2 linked regions of the Homo sapiens genome follow. The protein of the gene in region 2 interacts with the protein of the main gene of each other region in a pairwise test. Each region holds a gene or a part of one and is shown on either strand. Other genes may lie near its edges.

Region 1 (3,649 bases), on a different chromosome or scaffold from region 2:
CAAGTGATCCACCTGCCTTGGCCTCCCAAAGTACTAGGATTACAGACGTGAGCCATCACGCCCAGCCTTTTAATTTTTATAATTATTTTTTCAGACAAGGCCTTGCTTTGTCACCCGGACGGGAGTGCAGTGGCACGAACATGACTCACTGCAGCCTCGACCTCCCCAGTTCAGGTGATCCTCCCACCTCAGCCTGGCAAGTAGCTGGGACTACAATCCTGTGCCACCACATTTGGCAAATCTTCTGTATTTGTTGTAGAGTCAAAGTTTCACTATGTTGGCAGGCTGGTCTCAAACTCTTGGGCTCAAGTGATCCTCCAGCCTTGGCCTCCCAAAGTGCTGGTATTACAAGGCATGAGCCACCATGCCTAGACTGTGTTTTATTTTTTATTTATTTATTTATTTATTTATTTATTTATTTATTTATTTTGAGACAGAGTTGCCCAGGCTGGAGTGCAATGGCATGATCTCGGCTCACAGCAACCTCCACCTCCCGGGTTCAAGGGATTCTCCTGCGTCAGCCTCCTGAGTAGCTGGGATTACAAGCATGCACCACCATGCCCGGCTAATTTTTTGTATTTTTAGTAGAGACGGGGTTTCGCCATGTTGGCCAGGCTGGTCTCAAACGCCCGACCTCAGGTGATCCGCCCGCCTCAGCCTCCCAAAGTGCTGGGATTACAGGCGTGAGCCACCGCGCCCGGCCTTTAATTTTTTATCTTTTGTTTTTGTTTGTTTGTTTGTTTTTGTTTTTTTGAGACAGAGTCTCGCTCTGTCACCCAGGTTGGAGTGCAGTGGCACCAGTCTCAGCTCACTGCAAGCTCCGCCTCCCGGGTTCAAACTGTTCTCCTGCCTCAGACTCCTGAGTAGCTGGGACTACAGGCGCCCACCACCATGCCTGGCTAATTTTTTGTATTTTTATTTTTATTTTATTTTTTATTTATGTATTTATTTTTGAGACAGAGTCTCACTCTGTCGCCCAGACTGGAGTGCAGTGGTGCGATCTCAGCTCACTGCAACTTCTGCCTCTTGGGTTCAAGCAATTCTGTGCCTCAGCCTCCTGAGTAGCTGGGATTACAGGTGCCTGCCACCACACCTGGCTAATTTTTGTATTTTTAGTAAAAACAGGGTTTCACCATCTTGGCCAGGCTGGTCTAGAACTCCTGACCTTGTGATCCACCCACCTCGGCCTCCCAAAGTGCTGGGATTACAGGCATGAGCCACCGCGCCCGGCCTTTTGTATTTTTAGTAGAGACGGGGTTTCACCGTGTTAGCCAGGATGGGCTCGATCTCCTGACCTCGTGATCCACCCGCCTCGGTTTCCCAAAGTGCTGGGATTACGGGCGTGAGCCACCGCGCCCAGCCTTTTTTTTTTTTTTTTTTAAAGAAACAGGTTGTACTGTCACTCAGGCTGGAGTGCAGTGGTGCAATTGTGGCTCATTATAGTCTCAAACTTCTAGGCTCATGCAATCCTCCAGCCTCAGCCTCCTGAATAGCTGGGATTACAGGCATGTGCCACTGGTCATTGTTTTCGTTTGTTTGTTTTGAGACTGAGTCTCACTCTGTCTCCCAGGCTGGAGCACAGTGGCACAACCTCAGCTTACTACAACCTCTGCCTCTTGGGTTCAATGACTTTTAAAATGTTTTATTTTTTTTAATTATTTTTATTTTATTTATTTTTTGAGACGGAGTTTCGCTCTTGTTGCCCAGGCTGGAGTGTAATGGCACAATCTCGGCTCACTGCAACCTCTGCCTCCCGGGTTCAAGCGATTCTCCTGCCTCAGCCTCCCGAGTAGCTGGGATTACAGGCACGTGCCATCATGCCCAGCTAAGTTTTGTATTTTTAGTAGAGACAGGGTTTCTCCATGTTGGTCAGGTTGGTCTTGAACTCCCGACTTCAGGTCATCTGCCCGCCTTGGCCTCCCAAAGTGCTGTGATTACAGACGTGGGCCACCGCGCCTGGCTGTGATGTTTTTTTTTTTAACTTGTTTTCCCTATTAGGATATGAGCTGTTTTTAGAAGTGGAGACTTGGTCTGCTTTTTCACTGCATTTACTACCATGCCAGGATGCCAGATACAAGGAAAGTGAGTAATAAAGATTTAATTGAATGAGCACATGAATGGCAGCTAGTGTGCAGGAAGGATTGGAGAGGGTGAGCCTGGAGTCCAGTGGTGAGGGGACCCAGGCTGGAAATGAAGGAGGAGGTGGGGCGAGGGTGGGCAAACCTGTCCTGTCCTGTTCTTCAGGTATGGCTTCTCCCACTTCCATTCGCGAATCACTGCCTGGACCACTTTCTCATCTCCCTGCAAGGAGGGAAGTCCAGTCACCTTTCAGCATGCCACCTCCAGCTAAGGCCAGGTGCTACCTACTTGTCCCCCACCATCCACCGCCACGGGAACCCTACACCCACCCCTTTGCCCCTTACCTTGAGCAGGTCCAGCAGCTTTAGTTCCAGTGCCTTAGTCTCCTTGCGGAGCTGACTGATGGTCTCCTGGTTCTTCTTGATGTTCCACTGAGAGCTCTCAAAAAAAGCCTTCCGGTCACCCTCTGGCAGGCAGGTGAGGTGGACAGACACACAGTTACTGGGTGGGTGCATGGGTGCAACATCCCAGAGGAAAGACCTTTTTTGCAATCATCAACTTTTTTTTTTTTTTTGAGATGGAGTTTCACTCTTGTTGCCCAGGCTGCAGTGCAATGGTGCAATCTCGGCTCACCACAGCCTCCGCCTCCCGGGTTCAAGAGATTCTCCTGCTTCAGCCTCCCAAGTAGCTGGGATTACAGGCATGTACCACCACACCTGGCTAATTTTGTATTTTTAGTAGACATGGGGTTTCTCCATGTTGGTCAGGCTGGTCTCGAACTCCTGACCTCAGGTGTTCCCAAAGTTCTAGGCCCCCTAAAGTCCTAGGATTATAGGTGTGAGCCACTGTGCCAGGCTCATCAACTTAATATTATAAGAATGCAGTCGTTGACCAGCCTGGCCAACATGGTAAAACCGCATCTCTACTAAAAATACAAAAATTAGCCAGGTGTGAGGCTGAGCATGATGGCTCGTTCCTGTAATCCTTGCACTTTGGGAGGTAGAGGCGGGCGGATCACCTGAGGTCAAGAGTTCAAGATCAGCCTGGCCAACATGGTGAAACCCCATCTCTACAAAAATACAAAAATTAGCTGGGCATGGCCGGGCACGGTGGCTCACGTCCATAATCCCAGCACTTTGGGAGGCCAAAGTGAGCGGATCACGAGGTCAGGAGATCGAGACCATCCTGGCTAACATAGTGAAATCCCGCCTCTACTAAAAATACAAAAAAAAAAAAAAATTAGCCGTGCATGGTGGCAGGCACCTGTAGTCCCAGCTACTCAGGGGACTGAGGCAGGAGAATGGTGTGAACCTGGGAGGCAGAGCTTGCAGTGAGCCGAGATCGCACCACTGCACTCCAGCCTGGGTGACAGAGCGAGACTCTGCCTCAAAAAAAAAAAAAAAAAAAAATTAGCCGGGCATGATGGTGGGTGCCTGTAATCCCAGCTACAGGAGGCTGAGGCACAATAATTACTTGACCTCTGGAGGTGGAGGTTGCATTGAGCTGAGATCCTGCCACTGCACTCCAGCCTGGGCAACAGAGCAAGACTCTGTCTCAAAAAACAAAACAA
Region 2 (3,649 bases):
TTTTTTTGAAATAGGGTCTCACTCTGTCGCCCAGGCTAGAGGACACTGGCATGATCACAGCTCACTGTAGCCTCAACCTCCCTGGGCTCAGGTGATCCTCCAACCTCAGCCTCCTCAGTAACTGGGACCACAGGCACACACCACTAATTTTTGTATTTTTTTGGTAGATATAGGGTTTCACCATATTGCCCTGGCTGGTCTTGAACTCCAGAGCTCAAGTGATCCGCCTGCCTTGGCCTCCCAAAGGCTGTCAGCCACTGCACCTGGCTGACGTCAGGAGCTATTAAGGTAACTAGGAACTATTGGCACTATAGATCAAATGGTTCCAGATTTGTTATGGCATGTACCCCAAGGCTTTCTTCTATAAGAAGTGTCTTCTTGGCTGAGTGCAATGGCTCACTCCTGTAATCTCAACACTTTGGCAGGGTTAGGTGGGAGGATCGCTTGAGCCCAAGAGTTTGAGGCTACAGTGAGCTATGATCACACTAATGCACTCCAGCCTGGCTGACAGAGTGAGATCCTGTTCAAGCGATTCTCCTGCCTCAGCCTCCTCGGTAGCTGGGATGACAGGTGTGCACCATCACACCCGGCTGATTTTTTATTTTTAGTAGAGACGGGGTTTCACCATGTTGGACAGGCTCGTCTTGAACTCATGACTTCAGGTAATCCAACCACCTCGGCCTCCCAAAGTGCTGGGATTACAGGCGTGAGCCACCGTGCCCGGCCTTTATTTGTATTTTTAGTACAGACAGGGTTTCAATATACTGACCAGCTGGGCTCGAACTCCTGACCCCATGTCATCCGCCCACCTTGGCCTCCCAAAGTGCTGGGATTACAGGTGTGATCCACCGCACCCGGCCTGGGAGTCCCTTCTATATCCCTAAAACAAATTCCTCTTTTCACTTTTGCTAGAATGTACAATTTTCTGTTCTTTATAATGAAAAAAATCCAGAGAAGCCAAGTAAATATAGTATGGAGTAAAAGTGAAAGCAAGGTTGGTCTACAGCTTGGGAAAAATGTATGACACTGGAACCTCATGCTGTTTTACTATCAGGCCCAAATGCTATGCTGTTTCCCCATTCATGTCACCCAGTGGATCAAGGCTACCTCAACCACTGGCCTTCTCTTGTGTGATAACTGAGTTACGTACCTCCAGGAAGTCAAAGAGGAGGGTGGCTGTCACATCTGACAAGGGCTCCATGTTTAAGATCTGTGCCAACCAGCGCCATCCATGATTTAAGCCATGAGGGTGAATCTGGGAGTAGAGAAGCTTGGTTATCATTGATCTCATTTTGTTTAGAAATCTAAACTCCCAGTGTATCATCCAGCCATTACCAAGTGGAAATGAACCCCAGATCATCCAGCCCTAGCACCTGCCACAGGGCAGAAATAACACAAACTAAACAAATTCTGTTTTTCTTTTATTTTTTTGAGACAGGGTCTCACTTTGTTGTCCAGGTTGGAGTGCTATAGTGCGATCATGGATCACTGCAGCCTTCACCTCCTGGGCTCAAGTGATTCTTCCACTTCAGTCTCCCAAGTAGCTGGGACTACAGGCATGCACATGCCACCGTGCTCAGCTAATTTTTTTGTATTTTATTTAGAGACATGGTTTCACCTTGTTGCCCAGGCTGGTCTCAAACTCCTGGAGTCAAATGACCCACCTGTCTCGGCTTCCTAAAGGGCTGGGATTACAGGCATGAATCTACCTCGCCCAGCCTTCTGTATTTAAATGTTTCAGTACATTGGTTCCCACACATTCTTTTTTTTTTTTTTTTTTTTTTTTTGAGGGAGAGTTTTGCTCTTGTTGCCCAGGCTGGAGTGCAATGGCGTGATCTCGGCTCATTGCCACCTCTGCCTCCTGGGTTAAAGCGATTCTCGTGCCTCAGCCTCCCAAGTAGCTGGAATTACAGGTGCCCACCACCATGCCCAGCTAATTTTTGTATTTTTAGTAGAGACGGGGTTTCACCATGTTGGCCAGGCTGGTCTTGAACTCCTGACCTTAGGTGATCCACCCACCTCAGCCTCCCAAAGTGCTGGGATATCAGGCCTGAAGCTACCTCGCCTTCTATTTTTTAATGTTTCAATACATTGGTTCCCACACATTCTTTATAGGCTCCCTTCAATATGCATGTGTCAGCTTCAGTTTCAGGCATTCCATAGGGTAACAATTAGCCTTATTGACATTTTATTTATTATTCTTGGTACCTTTAGCACAGAACCTGGGACACAGCAGGCATACAATAAAAACTTGGATTTAATCAACTTCTATTTTTTCTCTTTAGGTCTCCGTAACTATTAATTTCTCTGTCCTTCTAATCTGTATTCCCTGAGAAATTAATTGGGCTGGCAAGTCAAAGCCCTGAACCCCAGCTGCAGCTTTCTGAGCTTGTTCTGTCCATCTGTGAAGTAAGGTATGTGATCTAGATGGCTTCTAAGGTCTCAACTAGTTCTAAGATGACAATTTCTTGCTCATTCCTCTTGTAAGAAAATCTTCTAACCTTAATGACTGATTTATAACAGACTCTCCTCTGGTAGACTCTGTTACAAAACCAGCTCTTTAAAGTACCAGGTGATCCAAGAAAGTTCCCTAATAATCAACATTCAGTCCTCTACATAATACCCATGAAACTGCCATATAGTTTATCCTTTAACTAGACTGGCTCTCTGAAAGAAGGCCAACATTTCCTGTGGGAGGAATACACATGGACTGTGGTCTAACCTCTCATTATTGACAGTAAGCCTCTTTTACCTACCTCCTGTCGGTTTCCATATGGCCACCGGAGCTGGATGATAGCAGCGTAGAGACGGATCATCCCTGACATGCGTTTTAGAAAGTTGTCTTGCTGCTCCACTTTGGAATCCTTTACTTGGTAACCAAGCATCCTATACGGGAAGAAAAAATTTGGCCGGGTGTGGTGGCTCACGCTTGTAATCCCAGCACTTTGGGAGGCCAAGGTGGGCAGATCACTTGAGGCCAGGAGTTCAAGACTAGCCTGGCCAATGTGGTGAAACCCCATCTCTACTAAAAATACAAAAATTAACTGGGTATGGTGGTGCATGCCTGTTTGTCCCAGCTAATTGGGAGGCTGAGGCATGAGAATTGCTTGAACCTGGGAGGTGGAGGTTGCAGTGAGTCAAGATTGCATCACTGCACTCCAGCCTGGGTAACAGTAAGACTGTGTCTCAAAAAAAAGAAATAAGAAAAAATTCACTGGGACAAGGCCAAAATAAGGGTGACAAATTAGAGATAAATTGCTTTTTTTTGGGAAACAGAGTCTCTGTCACCCAGGCTGGAGTACAGTGGTATGATCAAGGCTCACTGCAAACTTCACCACCCAGGTTCAAGTGATCCTCCCGCCTCAGCCTCCTGAGTAGCTAGGACCACAGGCACATGCCACCATAGCCGGCTAATTTTTTTTTTTGAGATGGAATTTCCATCTTGTCGCCCAGGCTAGAAAGCAATAGCACGATCTCAGGCAATCTCCGCCTCTCGGGTTCAAGCGATTCTTCTGCCTCTGCCTCCCGAGTAGCTGTGATTAAGGCACCTGCCACCACACCTGGCTAATTTTTTGTATTTTTAGTAGAGACAGGGTTTCACCATGTTGGCCAGGCTGGTCTTGAACTATTGACCTCAGGTGATCTGCCC

Evidence for each region. The genes of interacting proteins can lie anywhere in the genome.
Region 1: the proteins of GLE1 (region 2) and ODAD3 interact in binary tests that used the Homo sapiens proteins (3 or more experiments, as listed by UniProt).

Annotation. Positions count from the first base shown.
Region 1 is NC_000019.10:11,428,476-11,432,124, forward strand, and holds part of ODAD3 (outer dynein arm-docking complex subunit 3), read right to left. Parts: intron 2,546-3,649; coding exon 2,424-2,545; intron 2,302-2,423; coding exon 2,224-2,301; intron 1-2,223. UniProt on the Homo sapiens protein: Component of the outer dynein arm-docking complex (ODA-DC) that mediates outer dynein arms (ODA) binding onto the doublet microtubule. Involved in mediating assembly of both ODAs and their axonemal docking complex onto ciliary microtubules.
Region 2 is NC_000009.12:128,535,592-128,539,240, reverse strand, and holds part of GLE1 (mRNA export factor GLE1), read right to left. Parts: intron 2,887-3,649; coding exon 2,757-2,886; intron 2,415-2,756; exon of another isoform or gene 2,286-2,414; intron 1,256-2,285; coding exon 1,151-1,255; intron 1-1,150. UniProt on the Homo sapiens protein: Required for the export of mRNAs containing poly(A) tails from the nucleus into the cytoplasm. May be involved in the terminal step of the mRNA transport through the nuclear pore complex (NPC).